7 linked regions of the Homo sapiens genome follow. The protein of the gene in region 1 interacts with the protein of each later gene in a pairwise test. Each region holds a gene or a part of one and is shown in the gene's direction. Other genes may lie near its edges.

Evidence for each region.
Region 2: the proteins of RNF8 (region 1) and MAD1L1 interact in binary tests that used the Homo sapiens proteins (3 or more experiments, as listed by UniProt).
Region 3: the proteins of RNF8 (region 1) and PGRMC2 interact in binary tests that used the Homo sapiens proteins (3 or more experiments, as listed by UniProt).
Region 4: the proteins of RNF8 (region 1) and HOMEZ interact in binary tests that used the Homo sapiens proteins (3 or more experiments, as listed by UniProt).
Region 5: the proteins of RNF8 (region 1) and WASHC3 interact in binary tests that used the Homo sapiens proteins (3 or more experiments, as listed by UniProt).
Region 6: the proteins of RNF8 (region 1) and FAM118B interact in binary tests that used the Homo sapiens proteins (3 or more experiments, as listed by UniProt).
Region 7: the proteins of RNF8 (region 1) and ZBTB10 interact in binary tests that used the Homo sapiens proteins (3 or more experiments, as listed by UniProt).

Annotation. Positions count from the first base shown.
Region 1 is NC_000006.12:37,370,983-37,374,482, forward strand, and holds part of RNF8 (E3 ubiquitin-protein ligase RNF8), read left to right. Parts: intron 1-529; coding exon 530-592; intron 593-3,500. UniProt on the Homo sapiens protein: E3 ubiquitin-protein ligase that plays a key role in DNA damage signaling via 2 distinct roles: by mediating the 'Lys-63'-linked ubiquitination of histones H2A and H2AX and promoting the recruitment of DNA repair proteins at double-strand breaks (DSBs) sites, and by catalyzing 'Lys-48'-linked ubiquitination to remove target proteins from DNA damage sites.
Region 2 is NC_000007.14:1,816,946-1,820,445, reverse strand, and holds part of MAD1L1 (mitotic spindle assembly checkpoint protein MAD1), read left to right. Parts: intron 1-3,500. UniProt on the Homo sapiens protein: Component of the spindle-assembly checkpoint that prevents the onset of anaphase until all chromosomes are properly aligned at the metaphase plate.
Region 3 is NC_000004.12:128,270,814-128,274,313, reverse strand, and holds part of PGRMC2 (membrane-associated progesterone receptor component 2), read left to right. Parts: intron 1-1,796; coding exon 1,797-1,952; intron 1,953-2,900; coding exon 2,901-2,998; 3' UTR 2,999-3,500. UniProt on the Homo sapiens protein: Required for the maintenance of uterine histoarchitecture and normal female reproductive lifespan. May serve as a universal non-classical progesterone receptor in the uterus.
Region 4 is NC_000014.9:23,276,133-23,279,632, reverse strand, and holds part of HOMEZ (homeobox and leucine zipper protein Homez), read left to right. Parts: intron 1-2,445; coding exon 2,446-3,500. UniProt on the Homo sapiens protein: May function as a transcriptional regulator.
Region 5 is NC_000012.12:102,044,992-102,048,491, reverse strand, and holds part of WASHC3 (WASH complex subunit 3), read left to right. Parts: intron 1-2,372; coding exon 2,373-2,438; intron 2,439-3,500. UniProt on the Homo sapiens protein: Acts as a component of the WASH core complex that functions as a nucleation-promoting factor (NPF) at the surface of endosomes, where it recruits and activates the Arp2/3 complex to induce actin polymerization, playing a key role in the fission of tubules that serve as transport intermediates during endosome sorting.
Region 6 is NC_000011.10:126,256,782-126,260,124, forward strand, and holds part of FAM118B (protein FAM118B), read left to right. Parts: coding exon 1-71; coding exon of another isoform or gene 72-89; intron 90-3,343. UniProt on the Homo sapiens protein: May play a role in Cajal bodies formation.
Region 7 is NC_000008.11:80,496,226-80,499,725, forward strand, and holds part of ZBTB10 (zinc finger and BTB domain-containing protein 10), read left to right. Parts: intron 1-3,268; coding exon 3,269-3,500. UniProt on the Homo sapiens protein: May be involved in transcriptional regulation.

The DNA of each region.
Region 1 (3,500 bases):
AGCTTCCACATTGGAGGGGGCTGATGAGGAAATACAGCATAAGCTCAGGCAAGGAGAGAGGAGGAGCAGAGGAGCAGTGTATAAACTGAAGTGGTAAAGACTCAGAATGAGAGACAAGATGGCCAGAGTAGAGGGAAAAGAAGCATGCTAGATGTTGTGAGTGCCAGCACTGGGAATTACATCTGAGTTTAGGTATTTGGGGGCTCAGAAGTTCTCAGTTTACATCCTTTTGGGAATCATGGCGTTAGTCCATGAAGGAGGCTTGGACTGTTAGGCCATAGTATTTCCAGAACAACCCAATTGGTGGCTTAAAGCCGACAGTCCTGAAGTGTGCAGTATTTGAGCAGATAACTGCTCAAATTCTTTACTGCCAACAGCTTGAAGTAAAACAGGAGATTTTCCACCTGCTCCCTCACCCCTGTTGTTTCCAGATGCTCATACTAGCTGGTCTGCTCTGCTTGTTGCTGGATTGTGTTCCTTTTTTTCTTTTCCCTGCAGAGAAACCTTCCATTTTGTTTTGGCTTTGCAGGGTTTGGAGATAGCCCAAGGAGAAAAGGACCTGAAGCAACAGCTGGCCCAGGCTCTGCAGGAGGTAACTTTGCCATAGTACTAAGATTATAGTGGGCTGTGGAGTGGGGAGCAAACAGGCATCACATGACCACTGGCTGCCTCTGCTGCTTAGCCCATACCTCTGTGGCATCCCCAGTCTGTAAACAGAGCAGGTGGCAGCTGCTCACACCATCAGATCAGAGATTTGGAGCCTTACAAACATGCCAGACCTCAGCATGAAAACTTACATCTTTGTCTGAGCAGAAGTTGCTCTGGTGAAGATGGAATGGAGCTTTAGCAGTTAAGAGGCTCTCTGGGGAAGTGGCTCCACTTCTAGAAAGGTGAGGGCAGCAGAGGGAAAATGTGAGGTATGACTTGGCCACCAGGGCCCGTGAAGGCCTCTGTTACCGCAATGTTCCTGAGCTGTAGCCAACCAGAAACAATTGGGGAATGTTCCAGTTAAGCATTTTAGGCCAGGTTGAGAATGTGCAGTTTAACAATCAACAACACATATCAATTTATTGAAAAGGTAAAGCTCAACAGGACTAAAATTCTCCTAAAAGATTGCCTGTAATTTATTTAATTTAACCTGACTACTCTCATTTGATTATTTTTTTGTGTGCTCTTTTGCATCTTTAAAACCTACTATGTCTTCTACCTTTTATGTATTATGATTAGTAGTTTAGTGCCATTTAGTCAGGATGGTTCAAATCTCATTGGAAAGAGTGAGCAAATCACATAGGAATTTGTTCAGGGGAATTTATCCTTTTATCGTAAACCTACTTCCCAACCTTAACAGTGCTAACAGTCATACAGTATTGTAAGCATGACAGGGTGCCTGCCTTGATCTCCTTGAGGGTTGCACAAACAGCTTTGGAAAGAATTAGATGAAAATTAATTCAATCTTTTTAGAATTTTATTTTTTGAGCTTGTTTATTTTCTAGGGTGGGAGAGTAGGCATGTTTCCCATTTGGAACATTATTAAGTTAATATTCAGACATTGTTTTGAAATTGAAAAAGAATGTGGTTCTGCTAGTTGGAAATCCCTGAGGGATCACTGAGTACCCTGCACCCTCTCCTGAGACAGGAAAACACTCTATCATTTTGCATGGGATACTTGGCCATGCATTTATTAGCTTAAAATGTGATACTTTTAGACCGGGCACGGTGGCTCACGCCTGTAATCCCGGCACTTTGGGAGGCCCAGGCAGGCGGATCACCAGAGGTAGGGAGTTCAAGACCAGCCTGACCAACATGGAGAAACCCTGTCTCTACTAAAAATACAAAATTAGCCGGGCGTGGTGGCGCATGCCTGTAATCCCAGCTATTCAGGAGGCTGAGGCAGGAGAATCGCTTGAACCCGGGATGTGGAGGTTGTAGTGAGCTGAGATCGTGCCATTGCTCTCCAGCCTGGGCAACAAGACTCCGTCTCAAAAAAAAGTGATACTTTTAGGTCATGGTTCTATACCATCATGCCTGGGGGACATGCCACTCTCATGCAGTGGTGGTTTTTTGTTCCACCATGCTGATACTTTTGAAAGCTGTTCTTTACCAGACCATTATAAAAACTGTTTTTATAATGGTCTTTTATAACTGATTTCCTGTTTAAATCACATAATACCTTCCTCTCCAATCTCCAAGAAACTACCACATCTTTTTAAACCGAGTGATTCATAAGTTCTCAGGGAATTTGACTATAGTTAGAAATGGGTCCAGACCTTCACTGCCCTAAGCAGTCTGCCAGTCTTTGCTTTGAGTGGAAAAGAAAATAAAAAGATGTGTTTATATACAGCTCAAAAAACTTCTCTGAATGCTTTTCATACCTGTTATTTTCTTATGAACACTGAGGGAGGAGGGGGCACCTATTTTCCCATTTCCTTTTATTTTTATTTTGAGACAGTGTCTCGTTCTGTCACCCAGGCTGGAGTGCAGTGGTGCAATCTCAGCTCACTGCAGCCTCCGCCTCCTGGGCTCAAGTGATCCTCCCACTTCAGCCTCCTGAGTAGCTGGAACCATAGGCGCGCGCCACAATGCCCGACAATTTTTTTGTATTTTTGGTAGAGATGAGGTTTCACCATGTTGCCGAGGCTGGTCTCAAACTCCTGAGCTCAAGCCATCCACCCGGCTCAGCCTCCCAAAGTGCTGGGATTACAGGTATTATGAGCTACCACGCCCGGCCATATTTTCCCATTTTATAGATGAGAAAGTTAAAATACACATATCTAATTAGTGTGTCAAGTTGAAGACCCAGGCCTTTTGACATAACTGCTTTTTTTTGTCAGGAGATCACACATTTTAAAATTTGGTTCTTGAATAATATCTTTTCAAAAATACTTACCTTTACTCCACCTTCTTTTAAAAAGAATTTGAGGTGAGATTCTAAAGTATAAGCTATACTTAAGCATGAGAGAACTCATAAATTATGTTTCATATATGTGGAACCTCTTGACATTCAGCATAGGCATTTAGTCACAATGAATGAGCTGTTAGCTCCTGGGTGTGCCTTCTTCCAGAAAACACTGGCAGGGTTCAGGCAGCATTGTCTGAGCATGTAATATGTGATTTGTAGAACAAATAGGTTAAAAATCTTTTTTATTTCAATAAAAATGACTATCTAATTCTGCTGATTCCCATTTCCTCCTGATTATTTCATAAAAGCTGCTTCCAGTTCTGAATAGCTTTTAATTACTTACTAGTTCTTAAATACTGTTCCCAGAATCACTTGGGTGGCTTTAAAAAAAAAGAAAAAAAGAAAAGCACATTTCTGGGCTCCAAGCCAAACCTATAGAAGCAGACTCTGGGACACAGTGAAAGTTCTTCAGTTGACTTGGATGGCCACCAATGTTGGGTTAGTTTTAGAGGCCCTAGTCCATTTGGTGGCCGCCTTCCCTAACTGCCCTCTCCCCTGAAAAAAGCAGCAGGTAGGTAAGATAGCCCAATGGAATAAAGGT
Region 2 (3,500 bases), on another chromosome or scaffold:
AATAACTTTTGTTTTCCTGTTCATTCCTACTTGTATTATTTCCTCCTCCTGCTTCGGGCTTGTTTTTCCCTTCGTTTCTTGAAGTAGGAATTTAGAGAAGCGATTTGAGATCTTTCTCCTTTCCTGATACAGGCATTGAGTGCTGTCCGTTTCCCTCTAAGCACTGCCTTGGGTGCGTCTGGCAAATTTCATTATGCTGTATTCTTGTTTCCATTCTGTTCTCTTTTTTATTTCCTTCGAGGCATCCCATTTGACTCGTGGATTACTTAGAAGTGTGCTGTTTAATTTCCAGGCACTTACAGTTTTCCTGTTGTCTTTCTCTGACTGGTTTCTGGTTTTGATGTCCACTGGTGTGGCCTCCACCTCTTCACGCCACCCCACAGATGAACAGCATTCACATAACTTCCCAGTATCTCGAAGTAGCATCGTTTCCATTTCCTGCGTGTCTTCTCATTTTACTGCATTATTTCAGCTTTCCTTGTTTGAGCCAGGATTCAGGGCTTCCTTCATTCCATCTCTAGCTTCCTCCCCTCGAGTTTCCCAGTTCATGGAGTTTCTCTTGGACCCTCAGCAGCAGGGGGTCTTGTTCTTGACAGGAATCCCTCACACTTCCCCCTTGGCCTCCGAGCCCCACCACATCCTGCGGTTGGTGGTGTGTGGAGAAAGTGGTGTGTGGAGAGAGTTGGTGGTGTGCGCTGTCTCTGCTCTCCAAGCCCTTTGTCAGCCCCCACCCCTCCCTCACTCCGTGCCTCTTGTCCGTGCCCGCTGGGACACCATGGGGCTCGGCTCAGGGGATGGTGGGACCAGCGCTTAGTAAGACTAGTCAGCCCTAGGCACCGAGTGAGCACTGCTCACGTGGCAGAGCTGGAATGGGGGCCGGGCACACAATCCCTGGCCCACGTGTTCCACGGACATGCTGCAGAGGTCCCCGGCCCTCCAGGGCAGGCCCTCTCTGCTTCCAGAGGGGCAGGTGAGCCCCAGGCCAGGCCAGCGAGGGTCTGGACTAGAGTGCAGTGGCCACAATGGACGCCGCGAGTGTCTTCATTAAGAGTGAGTGTCTCAGTCTCCCCCAGGGCGCCCGCCAGCCACAGGGCCGCTATGTGCGCAGACTAGACAGGTGGCAGCTCGGGCCGGCCAGGCAGAGGGAGAGGAAGCCAGAGCCTGCGCGCAGGCAGCCTCAGAAGTATTTCCAGCCACAGCCAACGTGTCTTACTGGCAATTTGCTTTTTAAAAAATTGCAGTTTAATTTTAAGTGAGCAGCCCGTAATTACAGTGATTTACGAGGTACCTGGGGACTGTGTGATATTTGAACATGGCAGAGGGCTGAGCAGCGATGGCAGAGATGGATGGGCCCGGCGCCACTCATTCAGCAGGTCCTGCTAATGCCGGAGCGTTAGACCGAGGTGGAGCCTCCCAATGTGGCTGGGTACGCTGGGGGAAACGGAGTCAGAGGTGGGCTGCACAGCAGGTCGACTTGTTCACCGGGGGCTGGTGTTTTGCAAACGCTGGGTCTGCCTTCGTGTGGGGTTTGAGCTGGGAGAGTAGCACTGGTTACTCCTGCCTGTCTCCGTCCACCCCCACCCCCACCTGGAGGGCAGCGCGGTATATTAGGGCATCATTCTTCCAGAGCCGCCTGAGGCCGGCAGAGAGGAGGTGCTGTAGGAGCCGTGAGTGGGTTGCCCGGCCTACCATTGGGAGCAGCTGTCTTGCTGACGCTGGCGGGGTGCACCTGTTTCAAATAAAGAATGATCAGAGCTCACGCCTGTAATCCTCACGTCGTGGGCAGCTGAGGCAGGAGGATCACGTCAGGCCAGGAGTTTGAGACCAGCCAGGCCAGGAGTTTGAGACCAGCCTGGGCAAAATAGCTAAAGTCTATCTATCTCTCAAAAAAATTTAAAAATTAGCCAGGTGTGCTGGCACATGCCTGTCATTCCAACTGCTCAGGAGGCTGAGGTGGATCACTTGAGTCCGGGAGCTCGAGGCTGAGTGACCCGTTATCATGCCACTGCACTCCAGCCTGGGTGACAGAGTGAGACTCGTCTCTAAAAAAAAATATTTTTAGAAATGAACGGCCAGGCTCCCAAAGCCTGCCAGCCTCTGAGGGCCGGGGAAGGCGGGTGCCTGGAAAACAGCTATTCTCTGGTCCAGCCTGGCCAGAGTCTGCACCACAGTGCGTCAGGCCCAGCCAGGTTGCCAGCCCTGGGTTGGGAGGAGGGCGAAGGGCCGGCTGAGGAGACTTCTTCCCACACTGCCTCCCCACCCCTGCCCGGCAGCTGCAGGAGAATCAGCCCCTCTGACATTTAGGGGGAGAAATTCAGAATCAAGAGCAGAAGGCAGAAGTGAAAGGATTTTCTCAGCGAAAGGTCAGAGTGGTTTCTCTTGTTTTTGTTTAAAAATGGTTTGTGTTGAACTATGACAAGGCCAAATGTACTAAGGCAGCAGAAACAGGGGGAGGGCAGGGGGAGGGCACGGGGACGGCTCCTGAGAAACAGGAGGTGCAGGAACAGGTCAGGTCGCAGGGCCTCTGGGGCAGCACGTGCTCCAAAGGTGGTGAGGGGAGGGGCGACACCATCAGGGCGGGGCCCAGCCCAGGCATGCTCCGGTGGACAGGGGAGCTGCCAGGACCAAGCTGGATGGAGCCAGGCCGCCCTGTGGCTCCTGGGGAGGGTTCCCAGAGGGCTGCCGGGCGGAGGGAGCGCTTTCCAAAACGGTTTCCTGAGCTCCGATGCACACACATGCAGCTCACCCTCACGTCTAGCGCTCCATTAGTCTACCGTTCCGTTCCTCCCGGCACATTCAGTGCGCAGCCGCGACCAGTCTAACCGTGGCACATTTCCACTGGCCCTGAGCCCTGACGTGCCCCTCCAGGACATCCCCTGGGCACGGAGTTGTGTCGACAGGTCTCTGTGACTGGCTGGGCGTGTTTTCGGGGTTTGCCCGCGTGGCAGCGTGTATCAGAGTTCGGCTGTACGAAGCGGTGTTGACGGGTAAACCCGGTTTTGTGTCTCCCTCCGGCGGTTGAGGGCTGGTTCCGCGTTCCATCTGTTGGTGATGGGATCGTGTTGCCGTGGACACCCGTGCCGAGGTCTGTGCGTGGACTGCGCTCAGACCCCCTGGCTGCGCGCCCGGGCGGGTGCTGGGCCCATGGACTCTGCGTCCAGCTCTTTGAGGAGCTGCCGGCTGTTTGCAGTGGCCGCACCACACACGCTCCCGCCAGCGACGCGGAGGGTCTGATTCCCCTCGACCCAGCAGCTCATGGTGGTTGCTCTCAGTGGCCGTCGGCGCGAGGCGGCTCCGTGTCTCGCTCAGTTGCGGTTCACGTTTCCCCGGTGCCCAGCGTCCTGGCATGAGCTCATTGGCCGTGTGTGGCTCTTCTCTGGAGAAATGTTCAAGGGCCCCTTGTTTAATTGGCTCTTTCCTCTTCATGGTGGAGTTGTGGGAGTTCTGGGCATATTCTGGGTACAGGACTTTTCAGGGACGTGGTTTCAGAGGGAGCTTTG
Region 3 (3,500 bases), on another chromosome or scaffold:
GTCTCAAACTGCTGACCTCAACACTGCTGCCACAGAGTTGGGATTACAGGCATGAGCCACCGCACCTGGCCTGGTTAATACCCTTTTGAATGTCAGTTGAGATGATAGAAAAAGTTTGAAGGTTACGAATATTGGCCAGTGGTAAATTGTGTTCCATATTCTTATATAGAAGACACATTTGAAAGTATAAAATGGTAGCCTATGTTAATAAGACTGATTAAATAAATTACAGGTACACATCCATTCAGTGGGATAATATATAACCATTCAATGATAAATAATTGTTGATAGTCATGTGATACGATGTAGCAATATGGAAAATGCAATAAGAATAAGAAAAGCAGAATACAAATGTACTTTACTGGAACTGTTAGCTTTACTTTCATGTTACTGTATCAATACCTATGAATGCTACTCTTAAAATTATTGCTAATGCTACTTCTAGTTCCATGCAGTAAACTTTTCAGAGAATGAATTTCACATCTGGTTAACTTTATAGTACAGTGCTGTTAGCAACTCAAATTAATACTCATAAATGCTTAGATATCTATTTAAGTGAAACCTCGATTTCTACTCTCAGAAGGTACAGAGACTTTTTGACACATAACTTTCAGTTTCCTAAATACTTTTATATATGAATATAATCATTTCGCTCATTTAAAAATCAAGGAATTTCTAGTTTTTTCTGCTTGTTTACTTATCAGAACATACTTTGTTCTTTTATTTATAAGCCCTGTTTTTCACCACTCTGTTGTTGTTGTTCATAATAGTGTCTTTGCCTACCATAAGTGAATCTGTTTACAGAATCTTGAGTTTCTTTTTATTCGGAACTACAGCTAAGTCATTTGGAAGAAAATTATTACGTTCCTACTTTATGCCAGGCACAGTGCTAGGCATTGAGGATACAAATCCTCAATTGATGAACAAATTGCTGTTCTCAAGGACAAACCTTGGGAATGGTTTTTGTCAACACATCAGTCATGCCATTTCTCCTCAGAGAGAATGGTACCCAATTCCTTGGATAAAATGCTAATTATTGCTTAATGTGTCAGTCCAGAAGAATTATTCCTTATAGCTACTTCCTCTGTTTTCCAAAAGTCATGACAAGTAAGAGCTATTATTTTCCTTAATGACTTTTCCTAGTTTATATAGATCATTGTATATATATTATGGTAGTCAGATGATTTATTTTGAATATGGGTCTTTTTTTATTAAACCACTCAGCAAAGATTTATTAAATGCGTGTTGAGCACTGAACTAGTCACTGGGACCACAAAGATGATACAGTCTCTTTTCTCATAGAATTACAACCTTCATAAGGATAGCAGAAAGAAAAATGTTACAGATTCAAGTTCAGCTGAGTCTTTACATAATACATGATGTTCTGTTGATTATTTTTATTTTTTTGATGCCACTATTAACAGCAACCAGTAAACATTATTTCCCCTCAAGCAGACTGGCTTCTAAACCTAACCACTTAAGTTTCTTCTTCTCCCTCATTACCTCACAGTCTTCATTTTGAATATTAAGTTTGGGGATATCTGAAGTAATTGAAATTGAGGGTTTTAAGATCTAAGTGAAAAGCTTTACTTGGGTCAAAAGGCAGATTTCCAACAAATTTCTTTTCTTATTCCATCTAGTATCTGTACATGTTTTGAAATTAAGGGTATATACAAATGTGAATTATGAGGGGTTTTTTTCTTTGTTGTGTTTTTTTTTTTTTTTTTTTACTTTTTCCTTTGAGACATTCTAAAATATTGTTAGGTGATCTAAATAATTTATTTTCTTTTTTCCAGCGGGTCCATATGGAATATTTGCTGGTAGGGATGCCTCCAGAGGACTGGCCACATTTTGCCTAGATAAAGATGCACTTAGAGATGAATATGATGATCTCTCAGATTTGAATGCAGTACAAATGGAGAGTGTTCGAGAATGGGAAATGCAGTTTAAAGGTATTTTTATTTTGTTGGATTCTTTGGAAAATTAAATATTTGTTCAAAGAAAATATATACTATTTTACATGCTTTAAGAGCCTAAGGATGTCATCCGTTTTCATTGCCATCATTATTTGATAATATTTTTAAAGATAGCTAAAGCTGGGTGAAGTGGCACATGCCTGTGGTCCTAGCTGCTGATGGGAATCCCTTGAGCTCAGGAGTTCAAGGACTAACCTGGGCAACATAGTGAGACTTGTCCAAAAAAAGAAATTGCAAAAAATAGCTAAATAAAAATATGATTGTTACATGTGATAATTATTTTGAAAATCAATATTTAAAAAAATGACTTGTTACAAATTCTAAGCCTCAAAAATTGTGATACTTACAGTCAGCTTCTTCATTAAGGTTTAGTTTTTTAAAAATACAGGCTTATATTTAAAACTGAGTTGATTACTGATTTCAATACTATAATTTATTCCAAAATGATTTTACAGATCTTAACACTCGAAATGTAGATAAAAAATATCTTTCCCCTTTCTTATGCCCTCATAACATCAGTTTTTACCACTTGTGTGATGCTGTCCCAGCTGTTTATCTGACCCCTGGGTCCCTTGGAACAGCTGTTCTGGTTTAGCTGGGTACTGAGATGGGTCCTGGACTTACTCATTTTTAAAAAAGATCTCCAAGTGATTCTGATGCAGTATCCAACTAAGAATCACTGGTACAGAACACCCTCTTGCAAAGAATTCCCAAGCCTTATAAGTTCCCTAATCCTGTTTTCTTTTGTTCAGGCTTTACATGTGTATAAAGACCAGCCATGGTGAAGCAATTTTAGAATATTTAGATAATATTCTAATAATCATATTTTATATGATTCTAAAACAGACAAATGCCTTTTCTCTGTATAATGGAATAGTGAAACAAATTTGATCACCACTGATTTTCTTTTGATGTATCTTTCAGAAAAATATGATTATGTAGGCAGACTCCTAAAACCAGGAGAAGAACCATCAGAATATACAGATGAAGAAGATACCAAGGATCACAATAAACAGGATTGAACTTTGTAAACAACCAAAGTCAGGGGCCTTCAGAACTGCAATTCTTACTCCCTTTCACAGACTGTCCGGAGTCTTTGGGTTTGATTCACCTGCTGCGAAAAACATTCAACAAATTGTGTACAAGATAAATTAATCTCACTATGAAGATTTGAATAACTAGACATTATTTATGCTGCCAAACTCATTTGTTGCAGTTGTTTGTAATGTCTAGTGGGGCTTCATCATCCTGAAAAGAAGGAGACAGGGATTTTTTTAAAGAGCAAGAAAGTCACAATATTACTTCTTTCCTTCCTTTTTTCCTTCTTTCCTTTCTTCTTTCTCTTTCTTTCTTTTTAAAATATATTGAAGACAACCAGATATGTATTTGCTACTCAAGTGTACAGATCTCCTCAAGAAACATCAAGGGACTCCTGTGTCACATACTGTGTTTTTATTTTAACATGGGTGAGGGAGGCGACCTGATCAGGGGAGGTGGGGGTACACATCAATTTGAGTTGTTCAG
Region 4 (3,500 bases), on another chromosome or scaffold:
TATGTTCAATTCTTTGCCTTCTACTTTTAAACTTAACTTCCTTGTAAAGCAACCTTTTTCGATCACCTGCTCCACCCTGACTCATTCCGATTACCTGCTCTGCCCTGACTCATTCTCCACCCTGACTCCTTCCGATTTCCTGCTCTGCCATAACCATTTTCCCCACCAAACCACTCACCCGGTCACTCTCTTTAAATTAGCCAATCGGAATTAGTTTAGCCTGTGCGGTCTAACCCTAGCCAATATGGGAATGACAGCGGCAGGGGCCACCTGTGTCAGGAATAAGAACTTCTTCCCCTCTTTTGTCCAGGTGTGTGCTCACCACTGCTCCATCTATGAGGGCGCACCCTTCTATAGAAGTAAATTGCCCTACTGAGAAGAAAAAAAAAAGAAAATTTTATATTCGATTGCTATTTCTTTTGTGGCACCGAAACTTTATTTATAACAATAGTGAAACTTCGTCTCTACTAAAAGTACAAAAATTAGCTGGGCATCATGGTGCACGCTTGTAATTCCAGCTACTCAGGAGGCTGAGGCAGGAGAATCACTTGAACCCGGGAGGTGGAGGTTGCAGTGAGCCAAGATCACGCCACTGCACTCCAGCCTGGGTGACAGAAAGACTCTGTCTCAAAAAAAAAAATAGTTATTAACAATTCTGGCCAGGCGCCGTGGCTCACGCCTGTAATCCCAGCACTTTGGGAGGCCGAGGCCGGTGGATCACTTGAGGTCAGGAGTTCGGGACCAGCCTGGTTAACATGGTAAAACCTCGTCTCTACTAAAAATACAAAATGTAGCAGGGCATGGTGGCACACGCCTGTAGTCCCAGCTATTCAGGAGGCTGAGGCACAAGAATCACTTGAACCCAGGAGGCGGAGGCTGCAGTAAGCTGAGATCATGCCACTCTACTCCAGTCTAGGCAACAGAGCAAGATCCTGCTCAAAAACAAACAAACAAACAAACAATTCTGAGGGCCGGGTACAGTGGCTCACTCCAGTAATCTCAGCAGTTTGGGAGGCTGAGGTGGGAGGATCACTTGAGGCTAGGAGTTTGAGACCAGCCTAGGCCACATAGTGAGACCCTGTCTACAAAAAATTTTAAAATTAGCCGGATATGGCTGCATGTACCTGTAGTCCTAGCTACTTGGGAGGCTGAGGTGGGAGGATTGCTTGAGCCTAAGAGTTCAAAGCTGCAATGAGCCATGATCATGCCACTGCACTCCAGCCTAGGCAACAGAGTGAGACCCTGTCTCTTGAAAAAACAAAAACAAAAATGCACACACACACAAACCAGTTGAAATTATTGCTCCTCTTGTTTTTGTGGTTGAGTCTTCACTATGTGATTCTTGTTCCATGAATTTAGAAGGTGAGAGTTGGTGGATAGCTTCTAGAAGTGGGTTTGAATAGGAAAGATAAAGGCTGTATCAGAGCTATGATGGTGCCACTGCACTCCAGCCTGGGTGGCCTGGGTGACAGAGCAATATTATCTCTTTAAAAAAAAACAACCCACCAGCTGGGTGTGGTGACTCATGCCTGTAATTCCAGCTTTGGGAGGCCAGAGGCAGGTGGATCACGAGGTCAGGAGTTCAAGACCAGCCTGGCCAAGACGGTGAAACCCCATCTCTACTAAAAATACAAAAAGTAGCCGGGCGTGGTGGCGGGCACCTGTAATCCCAGCTACTCGGGAGGCTGAGGTAGAGAATTGCTTGAACCTGGGAGGTGGAGGTTGCAGTGAGCCAAGATCATGCCACTGCACTCCAGCCTGGGCGAGAGAGTGAGACTCCATCTCAAAACACACGCACACACACACAGACACACACATACACACTAAAAAAAGCTATATCAGGATCAGTTTTCCTTCTTAACTTCTAAAGACAGATTTTTTTTTTTTTTGATAGGGTCTCACTCTATCACCCAGGCTGGAGTGCAGTGGTGCAATCATAGCTCACTGCAGCCTCAACCTCTCAGGCTCAAGCAGTCCTCCTGCCTCAGCCTCCCAAGTAGTTGGGACGACAGGCACGAACCACCATGCCCAGCTGATTTTTAAATTTTTTGTAGTCTCACTGTGTTGCCCAGGCTGGTATCAAAGCTCTGGGCTCAAGCAATCCTCCCACCTCGGCCTCCCGAAGTGCTGGGATTACAGGCATGAGCCACCATGGCTGGCTTTAAAGACAGATTTTTTTCTTGGAACAACACTCACCAGTCATGTGGCTTGGGGTAATTTAACGTCTATGGACTTTGGTCCACAGAAAATGGGAATTAAAGCAGGGTCTGATGACTTAAGTTTATGAAAATTAAATAAGAAATTGTTGAGGCACTTAAAAAGCAATACAACATGATACAAATACAGATTAAATTGTTCTGGTGTCCAGCAGTTAGTTTGGTAGAAATTGAGCAGTGTGTCAGAAGAGGAGACCCAGTGATTGAGCTGTTTGTCTTCTTATTGCAGCTATCTCTGAAGGGCACAAATCAGAAGGCACCATGCCTCCTAATAAAGAGGCCAGCGGTCTCAGTAGTTCACCAGCGGGGCTCATCTGCCTCCCTCCAATCTCTGAGGAGCTACAGCTTGTGTGGACGCAAGCAGCCCAGACCAGTGAGCTAGACAGCAATGAACACCTGCTCAAAACCTTCAGCTACTTTCCCTATCCCAGCCTAGCAGACATTGCCCTTCTCTGCCTACGTTATGGGTTGCAGATGGAGAAAGTCAAGACTTGGTTTATGGCCCAGCGCCTCCGCTGTGGTATTAGCTGGTCATCTGAAGAAATAGAAGAGACTCGAGCCCGAGTAGTCTACCGTCGGGACCAACTCCATTTCAAATCCCTTCTCTCTTTTACTCATCATGCGGGACGGCCCCCAGAGGAGGTGCCTCCTCCTCCAGTGCCAGCTCCAGAGCAAGTTGGTATTGGAATAGGTCCTCCAACTCTTAGCAAGCCTACCCAGACGAAAGGATTGAAGGTAGAGCCTGAGGAGCCCTCTCAGATGCCACCACTGCCACAGAGTCACCAGAAATTAAAGGAGTCCCTGATGACACCTGGCAGTGGAGCATTCCCCTACCAATCAGATTTTTGGCAACATCTTCAAAGCAGTGGCCTCTCAAAGGAGCAGGCAGGCAGGGGTCCCAACCAGTCACATGGCATAGGTACTGCTTCCTGGAACCACTCCACAACCGTCCCCCAGCCACAAGCTCGGGATAAACCCCCACCAATTGCATTAATTGCCAGTAGTTGTAAGGAGGAGTCAGCATCTAGTGTTACTCCCTCTTCTTCCTCTACCTCTTCTTCTTTCCAGGTACTGGCTAATGGAGCTACTGCCGCCTCTAAACCCCTCCAGCCACTAGGCTGTGTCCCACAGTCAGTGTCACCCAGTGAACAGGCATTACCCCCACATCTGGAACCAGCCTGGCCCCAAGGGCTACGGCATAACTCAGTACCAGGTAGAGTTGGCCCCACAGAGTACCTTTCCCCAGATATGCAACGCCAGCGAAAGACCAAGCGCAAAACCAAA
Region 5 (3,500 bases), on another chromosome or scaffold:
CCAGGTTCAAGCGATTCTCCTGCCTCAGCCTCCTGAGTAGCTGGGACTGCAGACGCACACCACCACACTTGGCTAATTTTTTTTGTATTTTTAGTAGAGTTGGGGTTTCACCATGTTGACCATCCTGACCTCAGATGATACACCTGCCTCGGCCTCCCAAAGTGCTGGGATTACAGGCATGAGCCATTGTGCCCAGCCTATGGTGATTTTTTTTTTAACTATGTTTTTAAACAATGCTGAATTTAAGCTAGAAGTAGATAAAAATAAAGGTAGAATTTTTTCTCTCATCCTAGTTCATGTACTGTAGTTCAGAACCACTTTGTAAATGATCATCTCAGAATCAGAAGAGCAAAAGGCTTTTCCTCTTGGCACAGAATCATCTTAGTGAGAAACGAATTGATCATTTGTTAGCTTTGGATAACAAAAATTCTGTGCAATACCCAAGAATTTACCATTATGTTTTAACAGTGTAAAATTATCTCAAAAAAATCTCGTGAAGTGTATTGCCTCTGGAGTTGGAGGGTTTGAGTTCAGGATATTTTACTTGTATGAGACTCAATTTTCTCATCTTTAAAATTGGCATAATAGTTCCTACTTTATAGATTTGGTGTAAGATTTCAATTGATATGTTGCATATACACTGTACCATATGTAGCAAGGTAAATACTCAGATATTTACAGTATTGATGATTATTGCTTAAAAGTAAATATATAGGTATATTAAAACAGAAAAATTTTTAATTCCATTTTTTTGTTTCCTTTTGTGTTTCCTTCAATCAAACCAATATGTCCATTTTTAAATAAGTTGGAAATTCTCATTCACTTTACATATTAATTTGCTGTGGAATTTTTTCTCTAGTGAATTGAGACTGATTAGATTTGCCAAAATTAAATTTCTATGATTTTAAGGAATACACTTATAATTTGGAGAGGGATTCATTCATAATACATGTTATAAACCTGTATTGGTGTTTACCTAAAAGCCTTATGTGAATGAATTCTAGAAGTCAAGGGTAAACTTAGCTTTGATACCATGAAAACTAGATCCTAATACTTTATTTGTAGATTATGTCTTTGTCGATATCAAGATGCTAAACTAAAAATAAGTGATCTGTAAAGAAGCACTATCTGCTTTGTGGCCACTTTCAGTTTTTTGCCCCCTCTAATTGTGGGCAAAGTGACCATTTCACAGGATGGTAAAGTTCTACTTAATAGTCAGGATCTTAATAATATCCCAGAATACAATCAGGATGCTGTGTATCTGCCAGCTTGTAAACTGGGCAACTGCTCTTGGATTATGTGACTGAATATAATGTTTAAGATTAGGAGGTTTCAAGTAAATGTTCTTTACTTGAATGGTCATATTTTATGATGCTACCTTTCTTTGTATAGGTGTATATTTACACAGAGGTACATTGACAATTTAATTATACAGAGTAACAAGCATGATAAGCTCTTCTATCTGGTTTATCTTGCATTTTGATAGTAGATTTTAATACTCTAGTTTTTTCTCTTCTCTTTCCAAAATGAATTACTCATCTTCCAATTCCATTCCCCTTTATTTTTCAAACTACAGATGTTTAAATCTGGGACGAATTGTATATGCTGATGCATTTAAGTAATTTATAAAGGCAGACCTTGTTGCAGCGTGTCTTTGAATAATTTTTATTCTTTTATTTTCTATGAAAAAATTTCTTCATTCATCAACAAATAATTATTAAGCTCCTATTAAGTGTCAGGGTACTATTCTGGGCACTAAAGGTACAGTAGTAAACAAAAGGCTCTGTCCTGGTTTGTTTATATTCTGGTCTCAACAATTGTTTACTGCTCTGATAATGAGTTTGCAGAAAATGTCAACTTTGTTATAAGTGAATATAATTTTATAAAATAACTGAGAAGCGACTGGGTGCGGTGGCTCACGCCTGTAATCACAGCACTTTGGGAGGCCAAGCAGGCAGATCACGAGGTCAAGAGATCAAGACCATCCTGACCAACATGGTGAAACACTATCTCTACTAAAAATGCAAAAATTAGCTGGGCGTGGTGGCACGTGCCTGTAGTCCCAGCACTCGGGAGGCTGAGGCAGGAGAATCACTTGAACCCAGGGGGCAGGGGTTGCAGGGAGCCGAGATCGCACCACTGCGCTCCAGCCTGGCGACAGAGCAAGACTCCGTCCCAAAAAAAAAAGAAACTGAGAAGCATTATAATACACGTAATAGAAGAGTTCTCATTCCTACTCATGTAAATAAGACAGTACTGTATTAGAATATGACAAATATTTAATGGTTTTTAATATTTTCATATCTGCCCTTAGTTATTGTTAACAGTTTATTTTAATTAAAGTCTTTATGTCTCTAATTTTTCTTTTACAGAAACTGGCAGACCTTTCACTTCGTATCCAACAAATTGAAACAACTCTCAATATTTTAGATGCAAAGGTTGGTATTTCTCAATAATTTGTAGTATAAACTTTGCTGTGCATATACCAGCTTTCTTAATCATACTTAATTTTCATTGCATTTGGGAGTGATTCCATTTAACTTCTGTATCTGTGAAGTGATACTGGTTGTGTTTTTAATTTTACTGCAGTTGCAAAGAAAATGGTGTTCATTATGAACCATTAATTCAAATGTACACATGGTTTGCGATTTCTTTCATTGTGCTAGGCAAACGCATAATGCGAGTAACATGTTAACAAGCTGAGCTGTTATCTAGTTCACTTCATTTGATAGAAAATTCCAGATTTATTTTACTAGTTATTATTTGATAATACAATACTAATATAAATCTTTAGATGTCTCAGAGCAAATTTTAGAGACAATATCAGCTGTTTCTATTTGCAGATACCTTAAATGCTAATGAGGAATACCAGTTTTGATGTCAGAAATTGCAAATAATAACTAAGAAAAATAGAAGACTGTTTTAGATTGCAAGCTTAAAGATTTTGATAACAGTGATGTCTTTGGTTTCATTTTTAATATTTTTTTACATGTGTTTTTTCTGTTTATAAAGTTATGGAGACACTAGTGTATTTTCATGACTAACTTTCCTGAAGTTAATATTTTCTTTGTCCATTTACCAAAATAAAACTAAGAAATATTCTGTAAATATTTATGAGGAAGAAAAAAATGATATCCCTTTTTAATATGACCAGAATGTCTAGTTTGTACTTTCTACGTCTCTTTATGGACTTCAGCAACTGTGTTTCTCTTAGAACATTTCTCTAGTTTGGAAACCCGGTCTTGAACATGTTCAAGATAGTCCTCTAGCAGCCATACCCACTTGAAACTATTTGGGCCATAGCCACTGTGCTAACTATGGTTATCAGTCAACAGTTCTCAATGAGTATTGCTGCTTGAGATCTTATTACCATTGGTTTTTTTTTTAATTATTATTCTTTATAATGAATATGTGTCTTATTTTAATGTGAATATGTGTCTTATTTTAATGTTTAAGGAATTCCTGGGAGTTAGAGTCCAAGGTCGCACATTAAATGACCA
Region 6 (3,343 bases), on another chromosome or scaffold:
AGATGACTATGCCGATCTTCCAGAATATTTCAAGCGACTGACATGTGAGATCTCCACAAGGGGTACATCAGGTAAGATGCATTTTGAAGCTGAGGGGAATCAGAGAACAACAGCTCTTCAGCCTTTTGTGTATTTGTGATGTGATGGGCAAAATAGTTGCCAAGATGAGGAATGTAATGACTGACCAAATTGTAAAGGAGGCCACAGTCTTCAGGTTAGACTAAAGTGCCACTTGGATTATGGGAAGACAGACAAAAAGGAATACTTGAGCAGTTCAATATAGACATAGGAAGAATGAAGAAAACAGATGTTCAGCCTCACTAGTTATCAATGAAATGCAGTTTGAATTTAGATTACAAAATAGCGAAGAAAGATCACCCAATTTTGGCTAAGGCTGTGAGAAAATAAATTTATTCATGGAGTATTTGTGGAAAGGTAAAGTTAGTACAACTTTTATGACCATAAATTAGAAGATGTAACAAAAATTTTCAAATCTTTGACCTAGAAATCCCATCAAAACAATTTATCCTAGAAGTTTCTCATAAGGAGATAATTGGATGATTGCACAATCACACAATTGTACAAAGATGCATGCGTGGGAATGTAATTTCCATTGAATGTAGTGGCAAAAAATTGGAAGGATCCTAAAATTGGTGGAGATTCTACAGATATGCCAATATTTATTTAATTGATGAAATACAATGAAACCATAGAAGGGAAAGTGTTTTCATTGCCATAAAAAAAAAAGTTAGAGACATATGAGTAAAGGAAGAAAAAGCAGGTTGTAAATACCATGGTCAGCTATATTCATATAGAATTGTACATTTTTTTTTTTTTTTTGGTGCGTGTAGAAATGTATCTGGAATGTTTACTAAATTAAGTGGCTATCTTTAGTAGGATTTAAAGTGTTGATTTTTTGGTTTCTGTATTGGCATTTTCTATGATGATTATGTATTATATTTACAAACAGAAAACTTACTTTTAGAAATGCTATTTGGAAACGGATAATGGTGATATTCAAGTCAGAGGATAGGGGTATCATACACTTGATATTTTACCTCCACATTCTAACAATAAAGAGCAAAATGGTGATTAAAGATTCAGCTGATTAGTGGCTGCAGGCAAATTCCCAGTAACCGCACAAAACACAAACATTTTTGGTATCAGCTAAACTGAAGAATGCTTTTTCAAAACCTCACATTGCCAGGCTCCAGAGTATGGCTAGTGTGACTCATCCATCTAATTCCAAAAAAACTTGGCTGTTGTGCACAGAATATTTCCTGAAAACTTATGTAAGTATTTTCATTGTCAACCTGAATGCATCTTAGGAGGGCAAAAGTACAGGTAATTTGTCCTGTAATCCCAACACTGTGGGAGGCCCAGGTGGGAGGATCACTTGAGGCCAGGAGTTCAAGATGAGTGTGAGCAACATAGTGAGAACCTGTCTCTGCAAAAAATTAGCCAGGTGTGGTGGCACACACCTGTAGTCCAGCTGCTTGGGAGGTTGAGGCAGGAGGATCACTTGAGCCCAGGAGTTGGAGTCTGCAGTGAGCTATGATTGCATCACTGCCCTACAGTCTGAGCAATAAAGCAAGACGCTGTTTCTAAAATAAATAACATACAGGTAATTTAATAAACATAAAGCAGTTTTCCTAAATCAAATCATCCCCAGATTTCTTAACTGAATCAGATGGCTTCAAGTAGAATTCTCCTGTAATGAAAAATTACACAGCTTCTTCCATGGCTATGCTTTGATGGAACCAGACTTTTAAAAGCCATCACCACATGAACAAGTCTCATTTGTGAAAACTATTTACTATTCTTTGTTGGAAATGAGTTTTTCTGGTGTCCTGCAGTGTTCTAGACTCTCCTGCTGTTGTTTGCCCACACTTGAGACTTTGAGAAGGCTTTTCTGTTGCACATGTTGTTTTCATTAACAAGACATACATATCCAAGTTCTACATATTTCTTTTGATCTATATGCTGAGGAAAGATGCTAAAGTTTAAAACAGCAAAATCCGTCTGCATAACTGTTTCTGTTGCACTAAATCTTAGCAAAAAATAAATATGTCTTTAGACTGTTGCATTACATAACAAAGAAGCAGTAAGGTTCCTTAGTGCACTAAGATTGCTCTAAGGAACCTTAACTGCTATTGTGGAATGGCACAAATTCTTTTATTAGCTGTGTAGGCTTCCTACCAGAGTAGCTTTCCCCGAAGTTACCCATCATTAAGGTGTTCTGTATCTTTAAACAAAATCAAGGATTTTCAGTATGGCCAGAGTGCTTTATGGGAATGGTCAGCTGAGTTTGTCATGTGAAATGTAGTAGAGCAGTTTCAGGTTAAAACATCATTTCATTTTGAAACGAGTCAACCTTATCTTTCACCCTTGCATAATGTTTTGAGTCTCTGTAGATATAGACTAATGAGAGGTTACAGGTCTTTTGCTGTTATTTTGTTTTTTAACACTGAACCTTTGCTATGTGCCTGGCATTGTGCTGTATACTCACTTTTGCATAGTGGAAATTAATTGTCTTCAAAGGATTCTATAGTATGTAGTTACACATATTTTGGAAAAATCAAGCAGTGGGAAAAAGAAAAATAATTCTTATAATCCATTACCATACAAGCAGTCGTTGTGGTACTTTTTTTTTTTTTTTTTTTGAGATGGAGTCTCGCTCTGACGCCAGGCTGGAGTGCAGTGGCACAATCTCGGCTCACTGCAACCCCCGCCTCCTGGGTTCAAGTGATTCTCCTGCCTCAGCCTCCTGAGTGGCTGGAACTATAGGCGCCCACCACCATGCCCGGCTAATTTTTTGTATTTTTAGTAGAGATGGGGTTTCACCATGTTGGCCAGGATGGTCTCGGTCTCCTGACCTCATGATCCACCCGCCCTGGCCTCCCAAAGTGCTGGGATTACAGGCGTGAGCCACCATGCCCGGGCCTATTTATTGATTTGAGATGGAGTTTCTCTCTGTCACCCAGGCTAGAGTGCAGTGGCGCAATCTCAGCTCACTGCAAGCTCTGCCTCCTGGGTTCACGCCATTCTCCTGCCTCAGTCTCCCGAGTAGCTGGGACTAAAGGCGCCCGCCACCACACCCGGCTAATTTTTTGTATTTTTAGTAGATACAGCGTTTCACTGTGTTAGCCAGGATGGTCTCGATCTCCTGACCTCGTGATCCACCCACCTCAGCCTCCCAAAGTGCTGGGATTACAGGCGTGAGCCACTGTGCCAGCTTTATTTTTATTTTATTATTATTACTATTTTTGATACAGGGTCTTGCTTTTTCACCCAGGCTGCAGTACAATGGCACAGTCATGGCTCACCACAGCCTTGACCTCCC
Region 7 (3,500 bases), on another chromosome or scaffold:
AAATGATATTGGCAGTTTATTTTAGTGCTTTGTGCTTATTTAGCTCTTTAACCCAAATCCTCTAATAATGATCTCCTTAGAGAGTACACATACTCTTGGAAATGATTCATTTTTTTTGAAGGTCATATTTATTTATGTGGTTTCTTTTTTTTTTTTTTTTGAAGGGCATATTTAATAGCTGCTGCAAACATATGGAATAGTGCTTTAATCAGTGGTGAACAAGAAATTGCTGTTGTTGGTTATAAAAACAAGGGACATTAATGTTCTTGTTCTTGTACCATAGTAATGAGAAAAAAAAATAGTGGTTGAATGGTGTTTAATTTGTACAGTTTGTGTCAAAGTAGAATGGGCAGATATTTTGGTGGATAGGCTTTTGTCTTAGTTATAAAAATTAGGACATTTGGTATGATAAAGGCAGAGAATCTTAACAATTGGCACTGGCCCAGAAAATTCAGGGTGCAGTGACCATAGCGTGTTATGACTGCTACAGTAGGCATAGCCACCTCCTGAAGTGTTTTCAACTGCTTGATATACGGACTTTAGGCAGTTCTTGACTTGTACATGCTAATTCACTGCTTCCACAAACAGTTCATAGATATATGCTGCCAGATATTTAGTGTTGAAAACTTTTGCTTCTTCCAAATATTCATACAATATTCATGCTTTTACTATAATATATAGTAGATTGAACACTGAACCAAATGAGCTTGGGTTCAGGTACAGCTTGTGTAACAAAGCTTTTAGTGTTGGGCCTGTATCAAAGCAAGATTCTTCCCCCTTATTTGTAATTTCTATAGAGAGCATAGGCAAATTAATAAAATTTACTCAGTCTCAAAAGGGAAACCAAGTAAACAGAATGATGCTTTTGTGGAAAGTTACACTGTCCAAGTAATTGTTACAGGTGTTTTTAGTATCATTCTTTACATTTTCACACAAGTCCTAAATTGTTCATTCCTCTTTGCTACATGATACGAAATTTCACAACATACTGGTTTTTTTTTTCTTTTAACCAAATATTTGCAGTAATCCAATACAACATACTGGTTTAATACAAGAGCTTAGGTTAAATAAGTCTCATTATTACCTTATTTCCTTTCTCCAGTTCCCCAAAAACAAAAATAAGGGTATTACTCATGAATGGACTTGTTTTGATTCCTCTATCCGTGACTTAACAGTTTTTGCAGAATTGGATCTTTTGGTAGGAGGAGAAAATAGCTAATTTAGAGCATGGAACATTATTATATGGTGGGGGGGGGCATGGGTGGGAGTTTTTTGGTATAAGGGCTTTATGCACTTGGCACAAGAAGGGTATGGGAAGGTTGCCAAGGATCAGTCAAAAATGAGGAAATTTCTCTACTTTGTGTGCTTCATTCTGTAGTGATCATATACTCCAGATTCGTAGAGTTTTTCATACTATTCCATTTTCACAGTGAAACAGTTGAAGTGTGTCCTGGAATCTTTTTTTTTTTTTTTTTTTTTTTGAGACAGGTCTCAGTCTGTTGCCCAGACTGGAGTGCAGTGGCATGATCTTGGCTCACCACAACCTCTGCCTCAGCCTCCCAAGTAGCTGACATTACAGGCGTGCCCCACTACTGCCCAGCTAATGTTTGTATTTTTAGTAGAGACGGGGTTTCACCACATTGGCCAGGCTGGTCTTGAACTCCTGACCTCAAATGATCTACCCACCTCAGCCTTTCAGTGCTGGGATTACAGGCGTGAGCCACCATGCCTGGCCATGTCCTGGAATATTATTTGGGTTCTTTCAGTTGACTTCTCATACCTGGGAGCAGCACTATAATTTTTAGATGGACTGGGTTAGTTTCAGAGAATTGAGATGACAGCGTCTGTGGCCTCCTGTGACATGCACCCAAGTAAAGCTAAAATTTTTATGATTTAGCCATGCACATGATTGCATTAAGTCATGTTTCGTGATTGTTTAGGGATCCACCATTTAGGATATTGTTTGTGAGACTACTTTTGCAGTCTCGTCATCTCTACACCACTAACTCTCTTCTAAGCATGTCAGTACTTTGAGCCTGTTTACACTCTAGTGTTTATTTCTCCATGTTTTTCTCCATGCTCGTAAAATCATAGATCCATACATATGTGTATATATTTTATTATTTTATAGAAATGGTCTATGTTTAACTTAATATTTTGTGCCAAAGAATTGACACTTGAATAAGGTCAGTATTTTCAGTTATCTTTTCTACTAGAAATGGTCTAAGCAATTTTTCTCTTGGGAAAGAGATGATTACTTCATTTGTTTAGCAAAGTGTGGCAGGCACTAATCAAAGTGCTGGAGGGATATTCAGCTCTGCCTTGAGGGAGCTTACCCACCTAGTCACTGTATGAGGAAAGTCATAAAGTTTTAACTAACATTTGTAATACTGACTTATCGTTTAAGGAAAAGGCTCAGGGATAGTGACTTTCCAAGGACACGCAGTTAATGGCTGATACAGACAGCATTCTGAATTCTGGATCATACTTTTATTCTTACGATTATATCACATAATTTTAATTGTGACGCCAAGTAGAACTATAATGAATACCTGTATGATAAGAAGCAAAATTTATAAACATTTAGAATTTTGAATTCAGGAATTTTAATTTACCTTACAGTTTATAGTACTTATGACCCTAAAGAGATAAAGCGTTTTGAAAGTTGATAGGAAATTATATAACTAGATATTCCTATAGTTGAAGCAAATTTTCCCCTTAGGGTCTTACCTTTATCTCTAGTTAGATTTAATTAACTTCATTGACCTAAACTGTTTGATTTTAATGTTTGCCAAGACTTAAAATTTACCTTTTTATTAATGGTAGATAGGGTGATATGCCTAGCATAAAATATAACTTGGATATTTTAAGTTCAATCGGGGGAGACTGTTGCTTTTCTATAGAGATAAAGCAAACATTTAATTCCTATAAGAGAAAGTTTCTTTTCTTAAGAAAATAATTGCTCTTTTTAATTTTAATTTTAAGAAATTCTCAATTCATGTTCTTAGCTTATATTTGAAACATATAACATGATGAATGTTATTTTTAAAATGAAACCCTGCTGATCTTCAGTCAGATGTGTTTGATTTTTTTCTTTTTTAATAATAGCAGTGGGTTGCACCACCACTGTTCACTCCATTTCTTGATTACTCACAAATTAATATATTTGATTATCGCTTTTTAAAAACTTGATAATTGTTTTCCTTGGTTTGGGAGTTTTTAAAAAAGTCAATAAAGTTTAATATTAATGTTTTTTATCCAATTACAGGAGTCAGAAATACCATCAGAGGAGGGGTACTGTGACTTTAATAGTAGGCCAAATGAGAACTCTTATTGCTATCAACTTCTGCGACAACTAAATGAACAGAGAAAGAAAGGTATTCTTTGTGATGTCAGCATTGTGGTAAGCGGAAAAATCTTCAAAGCTCATAAGAACATCCTGGTTGCAGGCAGCCGTTTCTTTAAGACTTTATATTGCTTTTCAAACAAAGAAAGCCCTA